Homo sapiens: one gene and its partners. The protein of the gene in region 3 interacts with the protein of the main gene of each other region in a pairwise test. Each region holds a gene or a part of one and is shown on either strand. Other genes may lie near its edges.

Evidence for each region.
Region 1: the proteins of ARIH2 (region 3) and CBR3 interact in a two-hybrid assay, tested with the Homo sapiens proteins (one large-scale study listed by BioGRID and IntAct).
Region 2: the proteins of ARIH2 (region 3) and PTN interact in a two-hybrid assay, tested with the Homo sapiens proteins (one large-scale study listed by BioGRID and IntAct).
Region 4: the proteins of ARIH2 (region 3) and CCDC33 interact in a two-hybrid assay, tested with the Homo sapiens proteins (2 studies listed by BioGRID and IntAct).

The regions. Positions count from the first base shown.
Region 1 is NC_000021.9:36,140,561-36,145,692, reverse strand, and holds part of CBR3 (carbonyl reductase [NADPH] 3), read right to left. Parts: intron 4,298-5,132; exon of another isoform or gene 3,770-4,297; coding exon of another isoform or gene 3,729-3,769; exon of another isoform or gene 3,549-3,728; intron 1-3,548. UniProt on the Homo sapiens protein: Catalyzes the NADPH-dependent reduction of carbonyl compounds to their corresponding alcohols. Has low NADPH-dependent oxidoreductase activity.
Region 2 is NC_000007.14:137,231,620-137,236,751, forward strand, and holds part of PTN (pleiotrophin isoform 1 precursor), read right to left. Parts: intron 1-5,132.
Region 3 is NC_000003.12:48,962,758-48,968,268, forward strand, and holds part of ARIH2 (E3 ubiquitin-protein ligase ARIH2), read left to right. Parts: intron 1-2,161; coding exon 2,162-2,225; intron 2,226-4,367; coding exon 4,368-4,518; intron 4,519-5,303; exon of another isoform or gene 5,304-5,420; intron 5,421-5,511.
Region 4 is NC_000015.10:74,266,308-74,271,439, reverse strand, and holds part of CCDC33 (coiled-coil domain-containing protein 33), read right to left. Parts: intron 4,763-5,132; coding exon 4,653-4,762; intron 3,099-4,652; coding exon 2,982-3,098; intron 1-2,981.

The DNA.
Region 1 (5,132 bases), on a different chromosome or scaffold from region 3:
CCACCGCACCTGGCCATTGTGTAGGTTTAATTGCTGATTAAAAACAAAAAAGTGGCTGGATGCTGTGGCTTATATCTGTAATCCCAGCACTTTGGGAGGCTGAGAGGAGTGGATCACTTGAACCCAGGAGTTCAAGACCAGCCTGGGCAACGTGGCAAAACTCTGTCTCTACTAACAATAGAAAAATTAGCTGGGTGTGGTGGCGTGTGCCTGTGGTCTCAGCTACTCAGGAAGCTGAGGTAAGAGGATCACCTGAATCCAGGAAGTAGAGATTGCAGTGAGCCATGATCACACCACTACACTCCACTACACTCCAGCCTGGGTGACACGAATGAGACCCTTTCTCAAAAAGTAATAATCAAATTTAAAAAAAGATTAAAAATGTGACTATAGAAGGCATAAAATCTATGCACCCATGGGATTTAATTTTTTTGGCCCTATTCTCCCAAGGGGAAGAACACACCTCCATCAGTGACAGGGGGGGCTCCCTTTCTCAGGGATTCGCTGAGAGATGGGTGAGGTAGTAAATTTGTAGATTCCCCAGGCAGTTTTATTTTTACTTTTACTTAAATTTATTTATTTATTTTTTAAGACGCAGTCTTGCTCTATCACGCAGGCTGGAGTGCAGTGGCACAATCTTGGCTCACTGCAACCTCCGACTTCCGGGTTCAAGCAATTCTCCTGCCTCAGCCTCCCAAGTAGCTGGGACTACAGGTGCCCACCACCACGCCCAGCTAATTTTTGTAATTTTAGTAGAGATGGGGTTTTGCCATGTTGGCCAGGCTGGTATTGAACTCCTGACCTGAAGTGATCTGCCCACCTCGGCCTCCCAAAGTGCTGGAATTACAGGCGTGAGCCACTACACCTGGCCTAAAATTTTTTTATTTTGTTTTGTGAGACAGAGTCTTGTTTTGTTGCCTAGGCTGCAGTGCAGTGGCACAATCTCGGCTCACTGCAACCTCCGCCTCCCAGGATCAAGTGATTCTACTGCTTCAGCCTCCCAAAGTGCTGGAATTACAGGCGTGAGCCACTACACCTGGCCTAAAATTTTTTTATTTTGTTTTGTGAGACAGAGTCTTGTTTTGTTGCCTAGGCTGCAGTGCAGTGGCACAATCTCGGCTCACTGCAACCTCCGCCTCCCAGGATCAAGTGATTCTACTGCTTCAGCCTCCCAAAGTGCTGGAATTACAGGCGTGAGCCACTACACCCGGCCTAAAAATTTTTTATTTTGTTTTGTGAGACAGTCTTGTTTTGTTGCCTAGGCTGCAGTGCAGTGGCACAATCTCGGCTCACTGCAACCTCCGCCTCCCAGGATCAAGTGATTCTACTGCTTCAGCCTCCCAAGTAGCTGGGATGAAGGTGTGTGCCACCATGCCCAGCTAATTTTTGTATTTTTTTAGTAGAGATGAGGTTTCACCATGTTGGCCATACTGGGCTTGAACTCCTGACCTCAAGAGATCCGCCCGCTTTGGCCTCCCAAAGTGCTAGGATTACAGGTGTGAGCCACCGTGTGCCCAGCCCGCTGGCAGTTTTATAAAACTGCTCCTCCCCAGCATACACACTCCAAGTACTTATAAACCTGCTTTCTGAGGGACAGTGCTCTCACCCTAAGGACTAAAGCTCTCAATTTCCTAGGCACACCCAATGTCCTAGGACAGTGGGCAGCCACCCCAATTCCTTAGTGCCACAACCAGCAGTAAGGAATCCCTGGGGATGACTCTGTCTGTCCTTCATTATGGACACTTCACGTGTGGAATGGGCTGTTTTTCCATCCTGGTTTTTATCTCATCACTTTTTTTTTTTTTTTTTTTTTGAGACAGAATCTCACTCTGCCAGCCAAGCTGGAGTGCAGTGGCATGATCTCGGCTCACTGTAGCCTCCACTTCCCAGACTCAAGTGATCCTCCTGTCTCAGCCCCACAAATAACTGGGCCCACAGGCACACACCACTGCACTCAAATAATTTTTGTATTTTTCGTAGAAACGGGGTTTCTCCATGTTGGCCGGGCTGGTCGCAAACTCCTGAGCTCAGGAGATCTGCCTGCCTTGGCCTCCCAAAGTGCTAGGATTATAGGCGTGAGCCACTGCATCCGGCCTGATTTCATTACTTTTTAGTCCCTATTTGATAATATTAATATTCATTAAATTATGAATTAATATTCATGTTGATCATGATTCACAGCTACTAAAGAGACAATTGTGCCCATAGAAACAAATATGTAGGCCAAAAATTTTACAATTTGAAGTACTGGTGGAAATCCAAAAACCAGTAAATGTGTTAATTTACACATTTCATCAGCATCAAACCCCACTAATTTTAGTGAGTTCTTTTATTATGTATTATTCTGAATGCATATTCTCTGTGTCCAATAGGGTCTTTTTTTTTTTCTTTGAGATGAGTCTTGCTCTGTTGTCCAGGCTGGAGTGCAGTGGCGCGATCTCAGCTCACTGCAACCTCTATCTCGGGTTTAAGTGATTCTCCTGCCTCAGCCTCCCAAGTAGCTGGGATTACAGGTGTGCGCCACCATGCCCAGCTAATTTTTGTATTTTTAGGAGAGATGGGGTTTCACCATGTTGGCCAGGCTGGTCTCAAACTCCTGACCTCAGGTGCTCTGCCTTCCTCGGCCTCCCAAAGTGCTGGGGTTGCACGCATGAGCCACCGCACCTGGCCGGATCTGTAGATTTTATTTCATTTTCTGAATGGCATTCCCCACAAGTTCCCATTGCAAGGGAGCTGCACATTCTTGTGGACCCCAATCCCACAAGAGATACCCTCACTCTGTCCTTGGAAACTAGCACCTCACTCATCCCCCCAGGTACCTAGTACTATTCAGTATTTCTTTCCTTCCTTCTCTCTCTCACTTTCAAAGATGAAGTGTATGTATGTATTTCTTTCCTGTTACAGAGAAGTTACAAGAATAGTTCGATAAATACCCTATGCCCATCACCTAAGTTCACTAATTGTTAACATTTTGCTGTGTTTGCTTTTTCCCTCTCTGTCCCTTTTTCTCTCCAAGTTGCTGATATCATAAACCTTCATCTTAAACACTTTAGTATTATATATGGTAGCAAGGGCATTCCCCTACATTACTACAGTTATGACCACATGCCAGGCATTTATCATTATACAACACTATTATCTAAAATACAGCCCATATTCAAATGTGTCCAAATTGTCCCAGTAATGTTCTTTTACAGTTTTTGTTTGCTTTAATCCAGGGTCCAAAGTAGGATCATGGATTGCGTTTTTTTTTTTTTTTTTGAGATGGAGTCTCGCTCTGTCACCTAGGCTGGAGTGCAGTGGCGTGATCTCGGCTCACTGCAAGCTCCACCTCCCGGGTTCATGCCATTCTCCTGCCTCAGTCTCCCAAGTAGCTGGGACTACAGGCGCCTGCCACCATGCCTGGCTAATTTCTTGTATTTTTAGTAGAGACGGGGTTTCACCGTGTTAGCGAGGATAGTCTCAATCTCCTGACCTCATGATCCGCCCGCCTTGGTCTCCCAAAGTGCTGGGATTACAGGCGTGAGTCACCGCACCTGGCCCATGGATTGCATTTAATTGTCACATCTCTTTCATATATTTTAATGTAAGGTAGTTGGCAATGACTTTTTTGAAGACTGTAGACCATTATTTTGTAGTATTTCTCTCAAAGTGAATTGGTCTGTTCTCATGAGGAGAGTCACATCAATATTTTGGCCAGGAATACTACATCAGTGATGTTGTGTTCTTCATTGCTTTCTAAACAGCTTTGTTCTCAGAAACTTGGCGGCTACAAGGAATTAAATGTGAATGGGAAAGGAAGAAAGAAAAACACAGATCATAGAAGCTGTGCCTTCGAGGAAATAAATCCTCTTAAGGGGAGGAGGTGTCCTCTTTGATCTGAGGGCACACCTCTGGGAGAGAGGCCAGAGGCTGACAGTCAGCCTCGTCAGCCAGATGCGTCATCAGCCCTGGGAAGGGCTGCACCCACACCACCCTCCACTGAGGTCCAGGTGGCCCCACCGGTCCCGAAACACCTGCTGCCTTACTCTAGAAAGAGTAGGCAAGTTGCGCCCTCTAGTGGCTTAGTAGTTGCTTGTCCTATTGACTCAGAACCTTGAACAAATAAGCAAGTCAAATACAGATAGATGGTCCCTGCCCTCTGATGGTTCCACTTAGGACTTACTGACTTCACTGATGGATGAGGAAGCGATATGCATTCTGCAGAATCTGTACTTGGAGGCCCCATACAACCATTCTGCATTTCACTTTCAGTACAGATTCAATAAATTACATAAGATACTCAACATTTTATGATAAAATAGGCTTTGTGTTAGATGACTTTGCCAGACTATAGGCTAATGTAAGCGTTCAAAGCACCTTGAAGCTAGACGAGGCTGACCTATGGTGTTTGGTAGGTCAGATGCGTTAAATGCATTTTTTTTTTTTTTTGAGACAAGGACTTGCTCTGTCGCCCAGGCTAGAGTACAGTGGCACAATCATAGCTCACTGCAGCCTCAACCTCCTGGGCCCAAGCGATCCTCCCACCTCAGTCTCTCGAGAAGCTGGAACATGCCACTATGCCCAGCTAATTTTTAATTTTCATTTTTTGTGTAGAGCTGGGGTCTCCATATGTTGCTCAGGATTAAGTCCATTCTTATGATATTTTCTTTTCTTTCTTTCTTTCTTTTTTTTTTTTTTTTTTTGAGATGGAGTGTGGCTCTGTCGCCCAGGCTGGAGTGCAGTGGCGCGATCTGGGCTCACTGCAAGTTCCGCCTCCCGGGTTCATGCCATTCTCCTGCCTCAGCCTCCCGACTAGCTGGGACTACAGGTGCCCACCACCATGCCTGGCTAATTTTTTTGTATTTTTAGTAGAGATGGGGTTTCACCGTGTTAGCCAGGATGGTCTCGATCTCCTGACCTCGTGGTCTGCCTGCCTTGGCCTCCCAAAGTGCTAGGATTACAGGTGTGAGCCACTGTGCCCGGCCACAAAAACTTCTTAACCTAAAAAGGTGAATGGTGAGAATTGCACTTGTACTCTTGTACTTGCTCAGTTTTTTAGTGGGATGGGATCAGAGAAAGCCTGCAGGGAGAACTGCAGGTGCTCTGGAAGGGGATGGAGTTTTAAAGGTGTCTTAATACCTTGCAGCTCT
Region 2 (5,132 bases), on a different chromosome or scaffold from region 3:
GCATTCATGAAATACTTGTTGCATGCGGAGTGGATAAATGAATACTTGAATGGGAAATAGTTCAACCCATTACTATATAGAAAAGAGTATTTCTCAAGGAAAGTAAGGAGTGTAAATCCAATTAGAATCTTGTCAAATTTCAGTCTATCTTTAAAGACAAATATTTTATGAAGAAGAAAACTTACAAACATACGTATATGAAATTTATCCAGGTTTCTTAAAACTTTGTCTTTAGAATAGAGACCTGATTAAACTCTGTGGGTAAAACTGTCCCAGTTTAGTCGCCTTTCAAGGTTAGAGAGAAATGTTTACTATGAGATGTGGGTCACAAATTAGCCTGGAGCAGGGCTATAATTAGTTAAAGCCAAGTGCTTTTTTATTGAAGTCATATAGCGGCTACTCTAGAAGGTTCTGAGAGCCAATAGGATTCCTACCCTGATGTGAACAGTAGGGCACTTTAGTTCACATTGAACAGAGCCAAATCAAGAGAAGGAAGTACACATACACCACACATCAAATAACACCCCGGGCCACATGTCCCTTGTCCCTGCCTGGATTGAGGCTGCAAAGCAGAAATGGATATAAACAGAGAATGAGCCATTGTCAACATGTGAAAGTAAAGGGCACCTGCCTGAAAGGTGACTTGTTCTGTTCCTACCAGGACATCACTGCACTGGAATCTCACAGCAGTGCCCTGGGTAGATTTTAACTTCCTGGGTTTTCAAACTTTCATCCTTTCTTTGGCCAGTTTTTGAGTTGATAGAGGCTAGTACTCATAATAATTGGGATACAGAGATGAGAAAAAATAGTAGGTGTGTATTTTTGTAACTTTGTGGGGGGTTTTTAAATACAAATACATTGTTTTAAGATACGTTTGAAAGTGTTCAGAAAGTCCTAAGGCTTTACTAAGAAAAAGTACTCTAGAAAGGATTCAGGCTTCTTACATTGCTATGAATCATAGGATCCAAAGGGCCATGTTCACCATATTCAATCTAGAAAACTCAGAATTTATCCAAGGAAATTCTTTGAATGCATAACAACTCCTGATAAGAAAGAAGACAGGCAGTGATATGGTTTGACTCTGTGTCCCCACCCAAATCTCACCTTGAATTGTAATCCCCATAATCCCCATGTGTCAAGGGCAGGACCAGATGGAGGTAATTGGATCATGGCGGCAGTTTCCCCCATGCTATTCTGTGATAGTGAGTGAGTCTTATGAGAGTTGATGGTTTTATAAGTGTCTGGCATCTCCCCTGCTTGCATTCATTCTCTTTCCTGCCACCCTGTGAAGAGGTGCCTTCCGCCATGATTGTATGTTTCCTGAGGTCTCCCCAGCTATGTGGAACTGTGAGGGAATTAAACCTCTTTTCTTTATAGATTACCCAGTTCTGGGTATTTCTTCATAGCAGCACGAGAATGGGCTAATACAGTAAATGCAGTGAGAAGAATGAGTAGAAATTAATATGAGCCGTGTTACAATTCTGAGCCCATGTGTTTTTTTCTATGCTGAATAGAAAACAAAATCTTGATAAATGCTAACGTATTAAGTGACACCATGGCCTTTAGGTACGGTGAGACAATGAAAAAATCATGAAGTTTTGTTAGAATCATACTAAGAACTAAGCCCTAATCTAGAGAATTGGTTCAAATAGATGTTTGCCACTTACCAGCTCTGTGATCTTGTGCAGATCAATCATTCTGCCTCTGTTTCCTATAAACTGGGGATAATAAAACCTATATCCTCCTCAGAGGGCCAGTGTTAGTATCATGTGAGATTATGTCCTCTGCAATCTCATCTTACCACTAATGTTCAAAACACATTAATTTATTGATTCAGCAAATATGCACTCCATCTCCACTGTTTTAGACGCTAGGGTATAAAGGTGAACAAGACAAAACTCTGCCTTCACACAGCTGACATTACAAACAACACTTTCAAGGTGGCTTTATGGGAGAGTCTTTCAAAATTGTAAAGTGCTTTAAAGTACATATTTATATTAAAGATCATGGGTATGTGGCAGCTATTTTTATGGTTTTGAGACCTGGTTTTCTTGTTGCTAATTTACTACTACAATCCAGAGACATGTGTTGTGAAAAATAGAGCAGCCACAAGGAGAATGAATTACTAGAAAGAAAGAGTATACCTACAGTAGATTTACCCTGAAGGAAAAGGAGGGTTTCTCCTCTTGGGGTTATTTCATTCTTCTTAAAAAATATTAATTACTTGTCTCATTTAAAAAGTATTACAGACTCATATAAAAACCAAAGAAACACACACACACACACACACATACATATATGTATATATGTATACATATATATGTATATGTACACGTATACATATACATATATATGTATATATATACACACACACATACATAGAGAGAGAGAGATTACTCATAACTTCACAATGTAGAAACAACACTTTTAACGAGTTCTATTTATGTTTTCTTTCTATGACTTTACTTAGGAATATATTGACAGTTGATATAGTATTTTATGCTAAAAATTCAATTGTATCTATTTTCCATGTCATTGCATATACTTTGAAATGTGACCAAGTAATATTCCTTTATATTATCCTACTCCATATATTTTGTAACCTTTCATCTTTTGTACATCAGTTGGATAGTTCTGACCTCTTGTTATTATAAATAATGATGCAATGCTGATTTTGTTCACAAATCATCGAATGCTTAAATTTTGCCTTAGTATAGATTATTAGAAAAGGATGTACTGGATCCAAGGGCAGGACATTTTAAAAACTCCAGATATGTGTCGGGAAATTTATTTTTTGAAAGGAAGTAGTAATTTAAATTCTTATCAGCAATTTATATGAGTCTATCACAGCAAAGTTACTCTTGAAAGGCAAATAATCAGACAACAAGCATCATCTGTTTTCTATCTTTTCACAAGCCTTTTGGAAATAGAATTGCCATGTAGTTGGTATAAGTAAACATCAACTCCCCACTTTCAATATTAAGAAAATCTGGGAGAAATCAGATTGGAAGTGGGCCTTAAGAGAAAGACATCTGTTTAAAGATTGTTCAAAGACCTTAAGGGGACATGTTTTTCAAGAAGTGAGAAAGTTGAGAATTCTGAAATAAGCTTATCTCATTTTCTCAGTAAAAGGTCTTGCTTTGATTACTTATTTTCAGATGGCCTGCTGTGTATACAGAAAAACTAAAAAGGAAATTAGGAGATGAAATGATTTCAGATTGAGGGGAGCCCAGATTTTAACTAAAGTGACTCAGGCCCTGTTCGCTGCTGACTTAAATAAAGTGTCTTTGGGTTATTAAAGCAGTGGGAGGAAGTATTGATTAGAATAGAAATACAAAATGTGCACCTTCTAAGAGATAGAATTCATTTTAGCTAAAAGAAGCTAAAATCATTCAGAAATGCACATTGCAGAGGTCAAGAGAGACAGCTGAAAAGGAACAGTTGGAGGCATACCATCAAGACCACTGAAAGTTCACTTTTGGAGACTTGTTCAATAAATCACAAGGACTTATCACAGAAAAAGGATCATATCCCTGTCAAACAGTACCATCGCAACGTAAATATGTTCAAAAGCCTGCATATCACCAAGATCCTTTTAATGCTTTGTGAACCGATTTAAAGTAACTCACCTGTGCTTAAGAATTAACTGCCTAGTCATCTAGAACTACCTAATCCCTCGCCCCACGTCAGCTATGCCTCAGAACTGATAACAAGGCTTGTCGAATTGTGAACATACAGCTCAGTGATTCAGGAACTAAAATCCAGGTACTGGTTGGCTAGGCTGCCTAACGTGGCACTGTTCATTCAATTTCCAAATATTTCAGTTTAAATGAGTAGCATAAATTAAGTGGCAAAATACAGAAACATATTTCTGTTAAAAATCAAAAGTATCATCTTTTAAACATTTGCTTAATGTGTTATTCACAGATGTAGTTCAGTCCAATGCCTATGCAATAATTTTGTTGTTTCTTCTTTGATTTCCTATTTTGTAGCATCAATTGTTTCATTTCCTCTTTTATGGACTCAATGCATTTACTTCTACGATATGTGTGGAAAACATGTGTACATGCATACTGCCCCTCAGTGCTACCCACATGCTGATACTTTGCTTCATCCACACCTCTTCTTTCCCTCACTGTCCACCTTCCTCTTCATTCATCAACTCTATTTCATAGCAATACCTTCTACTCCTTCTACTCCTGCTCAACTATCTGCTCTTCTGCACTCATTTGCTTTCTGATATCAAGTATACGTGAATAAAAGATAGTACATATATTTGTGTCTAGATGCAGACTAAACACATCTAGACAATTTCAGGAACCTGTTTTGTCCCCCCCACTCACTTTGGGAGGCGGCTCAGCATTTAACTGCATCTCCTAAAAACAGAAAGTTTAGCTATGAAAGCACTAGTGAATAAAGTAGATTTAATAGAAGGTTTAGTGAAGATGAAATTACTTCATCAACCATGCAGAACAAAATTAATAAAAGTCCCCAATATGTCAGTTATTTTTCAAATCAACTCACCAGTTGCATCAGTAGACGAATCCATCTCCCTTCACCCAAACACTCCTCTCTACCATCTTCTCAAACTCTCCCCACTCCTGTGTCTCCATTTTCCCTTCTCTATAAGAAGGAATTGAGATATCTATAGCTTCTCCAAATCATAAAGGGCCCATTCAGGATGCACTTTCTTTACACAGTAGAGTCAGGGGTGGGGGAATCAGCCACACATGAGCGTGTTGGGATCAGTCCCTGATCTGACCCATACATACATGTATACCAAGTAGAAAATTGTCATTTAAACTCCTAGTTTTAGCTCAAAACATGTATACCATCCTTATTTGTTATTTACAGACACACATACACATACACAGACAGAGAGAGAGAAAACCACAGATGTGGATTTAATGCCGAGTTTCTTTTGTTTAGCAAAAGCCTCTGCCCTTCCTCTATCTGTAGACCACTCTCAAGATTTTATACTTCTTGACAGTGACCATCCCACACCACAGATTCATCGACCTCTATACCTAAACACAAAAGAACGATTTATCTCTAATATGACATTTAAATATTTAAGAGCTTATTTCTGCAATAATGAGGAGCTTATTTCTGCAATAATGAGGGCAGAGGTA
Region 3 (5,511 bases):
CATTGTCAAATAACTCGTGGGGAGCAAAATTCCCTCTGGTGAGAAGCACTTGTTACCATTCCTACTCTTTCACACTGCAGTGAATCTTCCTTTCTCGTATGGTATGTTTTTTTTTATTTTTATTTTTTTGAGACAAAGTCTCACTCTGTCACCCAGGCTGGAGTGCAGTGGCACAACCTTGGCTCACTGCAACCTCCATCTCCAGGGTTCAAGCAACTCTCCTGCCTCAGCCTATGAAGTAGCTGGGATTACCAGCACTTGCCACCATGCCTGGTTAATTCTTGTATTTTTAGTAGAATTTATCTACAGAGGAAGATCGTGCCTTTCCTTCTCCGGGCTGAACACAACTGGGAAGGACATACCAGCTGGAGCAGCTCAGCACAGTCAGGAAAGAGCAAATTCGTTCCTGATTCACTAACTGCACTCATCCTGTGTACTCAAGAACGGAATATATTTAGATGGAATTGCAGATGAACTGCTGCTGCCTTATTATTATACTACTGCCCAAAACTCTGGAACCACATAGGTTCTGGCAATAGGATATCTCTCACTGCCCACACTCTTTCAGCATAACTCAGGAGTGGAGATTTGGATGGCAAAAGATACTTAAAATATTACTGTGGGAATTAGGAATAAAACGGGCCCCTCAATAAGGATAGCTGAGGGAAGCATTCTGACTAGGTAGAAATCACATAGATGAGACATAATTCTTTTCTGCTCCAATTCCTGGTATCTTGGAAATATGTTGACCTGGGCTTTGTGTGGCACTTTTATTGCCACTTGATAATTCTGTTATAAATGGAAAATTATTGTAGGTAACTCTTACTGTCACGTAATTTTTCTGGAGTTAAATATAGAAAAGGAATTATTGGCTATAGCATACGTGTAGTTTTGTCTTTGCTAAATAATTCCAGGTTGTTTTCCAGAGTGATTTACCACTTTACACGCTCAGCAGTGGTATATAGGTGTTCCTGATATTGTAAGACTTAAAGTTTTGCAGTTTGGTGGATGTAAATGGCATCTAATTGTTTCAATGGTCCTGTATTATTAAGGAGGTTGAGAATCTTTTCATATGTTTAATGGCCATTTGTGCTGCCTCCTCCTTTGAAATGCCTGTTAAGTCTTCTCCCCATTTTTTATTGAGTTATTTTGTTATTCCAAATGGATCCTTCCCCCTTCTCCCATGTCCAGTTCCTAGAACCAAATGGATTTTTAGGAGTTTTGTTTACTCTGAATACTGATCCTTTGCCAGTTATTTTTTTTATTTTTATTTTTATTTTTATTTTTTTTAAAGACAGAGTCTTGCTCTGTCTCCCAGGCTGGAGTGCAGTAGTGCAGTCTCTGCTCACTGCAACCTCCACCTCCCAGGTTCAAGCGATCCTCCTGCTTCAGTCTCCCAAGTAGCTGGGATTACAGGCATGAGCCAACACTCCCGGATAGGGTTTCACCATATTGGCCAGGTTGGTCTCAAACTCCTGACCTCAAGTGATTTACCCACCTCGGCCTCCCAAAGTGCTGAGACTACAGGTGTGAGCCACTGCGCCCAGCCATATATATAGAATTTTTTTTTTTTTTTGAGACAGAATCTCGCTCTGTCTTGCAGGCTGGAGTGCAATGGCACAATCTCAGCTCACTGCAACCTCTGCCTCCCGGGTTCGAACGATTCTCTTGCCTCAGGCTCCCAAGTAGCTGGGACTATAGGCACGTGCCACCATGCCCAGCTAATTTTTGTATTTTTAGTAGAGACGGGTTTCACCATCTTGGCCAGGCTGGTCTCAAACTCCTGACCTCAAGTGATCTGCCCGCCTCGGCCTCCCAAAGTGCTGGGATTGCAGGAGTAAGCCACTGCGCCTGGCCTAGAAGTTTATATATTGAATTATCTTCCAGCTTATGGCTTGGCTTTTGACTTTGGTGTCTTCTGATGAATTGAGGTTCTTAAATGTAGCATGATTTATTGGGCTTTATATTTTTTATTATTCCTTTATATTTTGCATTTTCTGTCTTGAGAAAAAAAGTCTTTGTACTGAGATAAAAGGAAGCTTAGTTCTGTGAGAAAGTAGAGACAAAGATGCTCTAAACATCTTTCTCTGTCCTGTTATTGTTCAGGGGTAAAAATGTCTTTAGCTTCTGATTGCCTTCATTTCTGCTTTTTGTTTTGTAGATACAAGTCCAATTCTGCTCAACTGCTTGTTGAGGCTCGAGTTCAGCCTAATCCATCAAAACATGTGAGTGTCTATTACTTGAATGAGGCTTCTCCTAATTGCATGTGGTTCTTGCTTTGGCTTGCAGTGTCCTTAAGAGCTATCTTTACTTGGCTGGGTGCGGTGTGGCTCACGCCTGTAATCCCAGCACTTTGGGAGGCTGAGGCGGGTGGATTACGAGGTCAGGAGATCGAGACCATCCTGGCTAACACGGTGAAACCCTGTCTCTACTAAAAATACAAAAAAAAAAAATTAGCCGGATGTGGTGGCAGGCACCTGTAGTCCCAGCTACTCGGGAGGCTAAGGCAGGAGAAAGGCGTGAACCCGGGAGGCGGAGCTTGCAGTGAGCCAAGATCATGCCACTGCACTCCAACCTGGGCGACAGAGCGAGACTCTGTCTCAAAAAAAAAAGGAGCTCTCTTTGCTTTGTTTATAGTTCAACATGCCCACAATATTTGTTCTAGTATTGACTTAAATCTTCTGTTATGGTTTGAAAAGTTTCCTTATAGATAGGGACTAAGTCATTGCCTGTCCTTGGGCCCTCTCCAGCCCCACTTTCCTCTCTGCACTTTCAGCCTGCACTCCATTCCTTCTGGGTGCTTTGGTGTGTCTGAGATTACTGCATATGTCTTCTGTTTGTGCCTTCCCTTCCTAGAATGTTCAGACTCTGGCTCCACCTTTGCTTATAGGGAGGGAATTCACCTTTAAAGACCCCAGTCCGGCCAGGCACGGTGGCTCACGCCCATAATCCCAGCACTTTGGGGGGCCGAGGCGGGCGGATCACTTGAGGTCAGGAGCTTGAGACCAGCCTGGCCAACATGGTGAAACCCCATCTCTACTAAAAATACAAAAATTAGCCAGGCCTGGTGGCGCATGCCTGTAATCCTAGCTACTTGGGAGGCTGAGGCAGGAGAACTGGTTGAACCCGGGAGGTGGAGGTTGCAGTGAGCCAAGATCGCACCCCTGCATGCACTCCAGCCTGGGCGACAGACACTCCATCAGAAGAAAAAAAAAATCTAAGCCACCTCTGACAAAGCCTGTCTCCTGGATCATTCCCCTGGAAACTCACCTAATTATATCTATAAACTTTTACATGTGTGTTATAGTGATTAACTCATATCATTTTACCACCCCTACCATAGAAGCTGTATTTTAACAATGCATAGCAATTTCCTGTTTATCTAGGAGCTAAACGAACATATGTCGAATATTTTTTGAATGAGGGCCATGCTAAAATAGATCTTGGAAGGCAGAATTGGGGCTCAGATCACCACATAATTTCTGCAGCCTCTTAAGACAAAGGTTTCCAGAAGCAAAATGGATAAACATGAGAATCCAGTTCTTTTTCTCAACTTGTTTTTTTATATTCCCAGTTAACTAAAAAGAACCTAATGTTCTTGTAAGTGGACTTTTCCATTGGTTTGTGGTTTTAGCCAAGGTCCCCAGATTGTCTTTCTCTGCCAGTTTGTGTAGCATGATGTGGATTCTGGAGTTCATGCTATACAGTTATTTGCACACATTCTAGAAGAGTTTCTTCCCCTAGTTGGTGTCTCCACATCCCCCCCGCCAATATTAATTACATGTGACATCTGGTGTATTAAGGATGAGTTGTAACTTGGTAAAGGCTGTAGTATTTTGTGGTTTGGGTACGTCGATATAGTGAAACCACTGTCCTTGACAAGTAAAACTACAGTGTTGGCTGTTAGAAGATTTATAAACTCATCCTCTAATAACCTTTGTGACTAGGTTTCTAGTAGTTGTGAGGGGCAACTCTGCTGTGCTTAACAGGGGTAGTCTACAAAAGAAACCTGATAGCTTCTAAAAGAATTTGGACTAAGTGACTTCTAAGGACCTTGGCAATTCTGAAACCCTGAGTTTTTCAGTCTGCCATTATAAACCACTGTAAGTTCTCATTTCAGCCTTGTTTCTGCCTCTGAATCCTGGTGATTTTGCAAGCCCAGCCCAGCTGCCACCTCCTTCAGGAAGCCTTCCTGGTATATACTTTTAGCTTAGTACCCTTGGGACTCAGAGTCCACACATTGCAGTTGAGCTCTGATACTTGTTGCAGGGTGAGGATCACTTTCCATGCACCCGGCTGCATGAGGTACCCTTATGGCCTTCTGGACCTGACTCCTCTTTGGCTCATGTGGCTCTGTTTCTCTCCAGGTTCCCACATCCCATCCCCCTCACCACTGTGCAGTGTGTATGCAGTTTGTGCGAAAGGAAAACCTACTCTCTCTGGCCTGTCAGCACCAGTTTTGCCGCAGCTGCTGGGAGCAGCACTGCTCAGTTCTCGTCAAGGACGGCGTGGGCGTGGGTGAGTCTGCCACAAAACTTATAAAAAGCTGGCATGAAGTGTTTATCTTTGACTCTGCCTTTTCATGTACTCAAGTAAACTGAGTATTTTCTTCTGAGCCTGATTGGGGTTTTTATCATCAGAACTAGTGATTTTCAAATACATCCATACAAACAGTGACAAAGTTTTCCCCAGTCCTCAGCAAAACGAGAAAACTAAATATACTGTTGTAAATGTTGGCGTGAGTGCAGAGCTACCTTCTCTCACCTTTTGGGAGAACGATCCTTTAAGCTGCCTACCTTGATTCCACAAGTGGCAGCCATAACTCAGAAATGCCCACAAGAGTTTGCTGCTATTTAGGTAACATAGCACAAATCAAATTTGATGATTAGTTACAGAAGTATTTGTTATACTGTGATTTGATGATACTGAAACACATTAGCATCGCATTAATTGATATCTGCAAAGTCCCACAATTGGTGATAATCACCTCTAAATAATGTTAAACATCACAAAACTCAATTGTTAGTCAAGAACCTATATAAGGATTTTTTAAATGGTTTTGTTATTTAATGGTGCCGTTAGTGATACAATTTGGGATAATATTTTAGTTTCATTGCTGTGAAAATATGCTAATTTCTCTCTTCTCTTTGAATAAATTCTGTTGCTTGAAGAGTTTCTTTTATGCAACTTGGATTTGTTGACAGAACTAGGTGGGCAAGTTGTGTCTTCTGCAGTATGCTTGTCCATCACTTTTTTGGGTTTGTTTTTTTTTTGTTTGTTTGTTTGTTTGTTTTTTGAGACAGTTTCGCTCTTGTTGCCCAGGCTGGAGTACAATTGCATGATCTCAGCTCACCACAACCACTGCCTCCCGGGTTCAAGCGATTCTCCTGCCTCAGCCTCCTGAGTAGTTGGGATTACAGGCATGTGCCACCACACCTGGCTAATTTTTTTTTTTTTTTTTTTTTTTTGAGACGGAGTCTCGCTCTGTCGCCCAGGCTGGAGTGCAGTGGC
Region 4 (5,132 bases), on a different chromosome or scaffold from region 3:
AGTTTCTTTGGGGAGAAAGGGTACGATGAGAGTTGGGTCCTGGGAAGGGAGGTTGTGTTCTAACCTCGGCCCCTCCACTGGCTCCTGGGGAGGGGTTGGGCTAGGGGTAGGGCTAGGTGTTCCAGCTCCTTGGTTTCTGTCAGTCAAATGAGGCTCCTCCCAGGGCTGTGAGGGGTCTCTGATTAGATCGTTTGTGAGAGAGCACTTTATAAACTGAAGACAGGAAGCCCAGGTCTGGTTTCTCCGACCATGCTGAACTTCCTGAGATCAGCGGCCACAGCCAGGCTCCCCTTGCCTCCCTCGTGCCCATCACCCTGGTGCCTGCTCCACTGCTCACCCTGGTGCCTGCTCTCCTGCCTTGCTGGTTTCCCCAGGAAGTACTGGTTTGGAACAGGATCATAGCATCCGCATCTCTGGGCTCCTCTTTCTTCATCAGATCCCGGTTGTCACTCCCCTGACCGCCCTTGGTTGTTCCCTCCTCAGTCCTCTGTCACCCCCTAAAGGCTTCCCTGCCTCCCAGTCCTGACTGCCCTCTCCTCTACTCCAGGCTTCTATTGGCGCAGCTTTCAGAGAGCCGAGCGGGGTCCCAGCAGGAGGTTACAAAGCAGGAGTGGACAGCGTCACCTTGCTCCAACCCTCACTGACCCCCTGCTCAGTCTGGGCCTGGGGGACACTGGAAGGCAGACAGGGGAGACAGGGAGTCTGTCCCCATGCGCCTCTGCTGCCAGCCTAAGAGGCCCTGATCTCCCGGACCCTGACCCTCACCCTGTATCCACCAATGGCTCCCACTCTCCCTCAGCCCTCACCCACCTCCCACTCGGCTCTCATTCCTCTTGCTCCTTCGATTCCTCTGCCTCCTCACTAGCCTCTCCACTTCTGTTCCTTTCCCTAATCCATCCTCTTTCCCAGGCAATTTGACACATGATGGCAAAAGTGCTCTTGTTAAAAATGAACTGGGTCACGTTATTCCCTGCCCGACACCCCACAAGCCCCTCTGCCGTGTCTCCCGACAGGCCCCCAGCCCCTGTCTTCTTGCTCCAGACTCTTTTACTCCTGCCACTTACCCCTCTTATTTCTGCCACAGGGTCTTTGCACATGCTGATCCCTCTACTCAGACTCCCTGCAGCTCCCACCAACCCATTGTGGCTGGCGAGGGCCCAGGAGTGAGGCTTGTTCTGGATCATTCTCCCTTTTCTCCCTCCGCACCCTCCTTTCAGGCTCCTCTTTCAATACCCATCTCAGCTGGTTTTCCCACCTCTAACCCCACACAGGTGTGAGCTGATGGGCACGTACAATAGTCCTTAGGGCCTCGCAGCTCTCACTGAGGGCTCTGGAGACTGAATCCCTTCATCACATTCAAAGGATTGAATCTCTGATGGTACATTTCACACTTTGGATGGGTCTGGGGTCTGGGGCTGAGGGATTTCACTGGAGGCTGGCAGGCCCTATTGCTCACAGGCTCCCCAGCAGGTGTAAGACTAAAAAGGGGGTGGTGGCAGCTAATTTGCACCTGTTCTGTGTGGACTCTGATCAGGTGTGAATGAGACAGCTGCCCAAGTACACCTGCTCATGACAGCCTGGGAAGTAGCAGAAGTTCCTGCTCCTGCCATGCGCTCACCATCAGGAGCAGGCAGCTGCTCTGTGGCCATACCTGTCGCACGGATGGAGAGGGCATCTGTGCTGGGGCAGGAGAGTGGGCAGGGTGCTGTGAGCCAGAGAAGGCCCCTACTCTACCGCTCTACCAGGCAAGTCAGAGGGCTGGGTGGGGTGGGGCAGCTCCACAGCAGCCCTAAAGTTCTGCCTGTGTCTTGGGGATGTGGCCTCCTCCCTGTGGGGTGCGGCCTGGGGACAGCAAGGCCAGGCTGTTGCCCCTCTTCCTTGTTCTGTGTGTGTGTGAATTGCTGGCTGTCCTCAGGAAAGGGCGTGATAGAAGGTGGCGGGGAGCAGAGGGCGCCTGTAGGTCTGATATGCTGGCATCAGAGGGGTGGCTGTAGGGGAGTAGAAATGTGGGTTAGGAGTTTTGGCTCCCATACCATACTCCCCTTGGGTCTCAGTGTCCCTGGCTGTGAAAGAAGGCAAAAGAATGCTTCCTTCCCTGCCAGGCCCACGGTGCTGGTGGGAAGTAGGGGGGTGGGAAGGATAGGAACAGATCAGCCATGTTTGGGTAGGTGGAAGCTCAGAGCTTGGGTCCTGTGGCTCCCACCCTGATCATACTCAGGCCATAGCTGAATTTGAATCTGTCACCCATGGGCAGTTTGAAAGTTGGGGGGAATGGGAGAGGGGCCAGGTCCCTGCATCATGTCTGCTTTGAGCATCAAGAGTTCCTCCCAAAGCTGCTAATTGGCCTAGGGGGTGGATGGTGATGGGTCAAGGGGCAGTGGCCAGGCCCAAGGTGGGCTCAGCCCTGTCCTGGCTAATGGAAGAGGCTCTGTAAACAGTTGCTGGATGAATAAATGAATGAATAAACTAAATACCTAATCGCCAGACCAGTCAAACCTCTTTAGACACAGTGCTGAAGGAAAGCTCAAGGAGGCCCTAAACTTTTGCTTGGGGGCCAAGGCACTATCCCAGGAGGGGAAGAATAGAGCAGGAAACTGCTGGGCTGTGGGCTCAGGGGGAGCACGGGGCTTCTCCCCTGCCCCTAGCATAAGATTCGGGGAGACAGGCTCTGGTCCCCACTGCAGCACAGAGACGGTACACCAGGAGCAGCAGTGTGGCTGAGCCCCTCCCCGCCACCTCCAAGACAGAGAGGGAAGGAGAAGAGGCTTGAGCATCTTCATCCTTGTCATCCCTGCCAAAGGGCTTGTCTTCACAACTCCTTTTGCTATTTTGGAAAGGCCTGGTTGCTTTTTCCATTCTTGACATCTCTGCTCCACACCCTCAGGTCAGCCAGAGGGGGCTAAGGGCAAGGCGTGGGGCCTGCTCAAAGCTTGGCCCTTTCCCACCCCCACCACCACCCCAGAGGGCCCCAGCCCTGGTACCTCCAGAGCCATGTGGTTGCAGCCGATGTAGCGGGGTATGAAGCTGCTCTTCCGAACGACTGTTGCGTACAACTGGGTCTTGGCAGTGGCTTCATCGGCTTTCCCAGACTCAGTGGGCTGGAGACAGGGTTGGGGCAGAAGACACAGAGGAAGGAGAGTGTCTAAGGGGCAGATCCTGGCCATAAATCCAGCCCTCTGCAGACAATCACTTGGCATTGCTCCGCTGGGGCTCCGAGCTGATAATTAAAGCTCATGGTCCCTGTGAGCCCTTCCAAGGAGATCAATATAATAAATCTTCCCTTTTCCATTTGAATATTTCATCACCCTCACAAGGACCACTGCCTGTCTGCTTTCCAGTAAAGATGTGATAACAAGGCCTGGGTTGTAAGTGAACAGACAGCCAGGGGGCCTGGGTGATGCCCCCAGAATTACAGCTCAAGTGCTGAGTCTCCCAGGGTGAGTAGCACATCTCTCTTTTACTTCCCTGCATGGCCCATCCTGAAGCCCTGGGATTGGGGTTCCTCATGGGGCCTAAGAGAAGGTAAAGCCCCCTGGTGCCATGATTGAAGAAATGCTTAGAAGAAAGTTCAGTGCTGGCCCGGAGGAGGGATGGGGGAGGGTAACTGACCAAACTGAGCACCTACTGTATGCCAGGAACCTTGCCTATCATTGCTTGAGATCCTCAAAACGACTGTGCCAGCTTTGCCAGTGAGGATGGAGGCCTGGGGACCAAGTGGCTTCCATGGGTATCCAGCTAGGAGGCAACAAACTTGGTCTAGGACCCCCGACAGTCTGGCTTCACATTGTTCTTTACTCTCAACCACTTTCAGGGTCTGGAATGCACAGTGGGGAGGGGAATGTGATGCTTCTGTTCATCTCTGGCTCACTACCTGGCACATAGTAGGTGCTTCATAAGTCCTTGAGCAATGAGAGAGTGAATTCTACCCCTTACCCTTCAGCACTAGGAGGGAGGACAGGCAGGGGTCTGGCCTGGGAGGCCCAACCTTGGAGTGAGGAGCCTCAGGCCCCTCAGTCCATGGCTTGGACCCAGTTGCTCACTCCAGGGGTGCATTCCAGGGAATGCTTTATTCCATGTACCCCCCAACTCTCCTGGGCCTTCTGGCCAAGGCAGCATGTGGAGGCAGCTCAGAAGGAACTGGCTTGGGAGACAGCATGACTTGGGCTCACCCTCAACTCTGCCGCTCACTTGCTCTGTGACCCAGGAGGAGGAGATTTTTCTCCCCAGGTCCCAGTCCCATGTCTGCAAAATGTAATTTACCTTGAGGATTAGAGAGGGGGTGTGAAATGTCTAGCACAGGGCGTGCAAGCAGCGGGTACTCGGTAAATATTGTGTTTCTTTGATTTTTAGATCCGCTCTTTTAACATTTTTGTAATCAAAATCTATCTTTAATTGGTATATTCATTTAATGTGGCAGTTGTCCTATAATAATCAGCTGTTTTTACAGAGATGAATTTGGAGAATTCCAAATTCTTGTAGACACCATTCCTGTGTATGTACCAGGAGCCATGTTTCCTGAGCCCCACATGGTCCTAGACTTGTCATGCTGTGGGTGGGTGTGGGATGCTCAGGGCTGCTCCGAGGGAATAGCTGGGGACATTCAAGGTGGTTCCCACCTGCTCTCCCGGCACTTCCCCAGGCCTCTGACTCACCTTCACCAGCTCAAAGTGGTAGGGGTGGAAGACACGCAGGTACTTGATGGGGATTTTGTAGGACAACAACTCCTGTTTCTTTCTGTTGTCCACCACCTTGAGGATCACATCTGGAAAGAGAAAAAATGAGCCCAGGTTTATTTTTAAATGGATCCCTTTCTCTCCCAGTAAGGAGAGACAGTGAGAGGTGAGAGACATTGTTGAGAGTAGGGAGCAGGGGCCACACTGAGGAATCAACATGCACACACATGTGTGGATCACCCCTGTGCACACAAACCCACAAGCACAGTCTGAGCCCCTGCACAGGGCAAAGCTCCATGCCGGCAGCTGTTAGGACCCCAACATGCAATTTTCTCCCATGGTCTAGAAACTCCCAGGTCAGAGATAGACACACACAGAACTGAGTCCAGTCCCCTGTGGCAACAGACACACATGTGCACACACTGAGATACACAGGCAAGCAGGCATAGCACCTCTTTC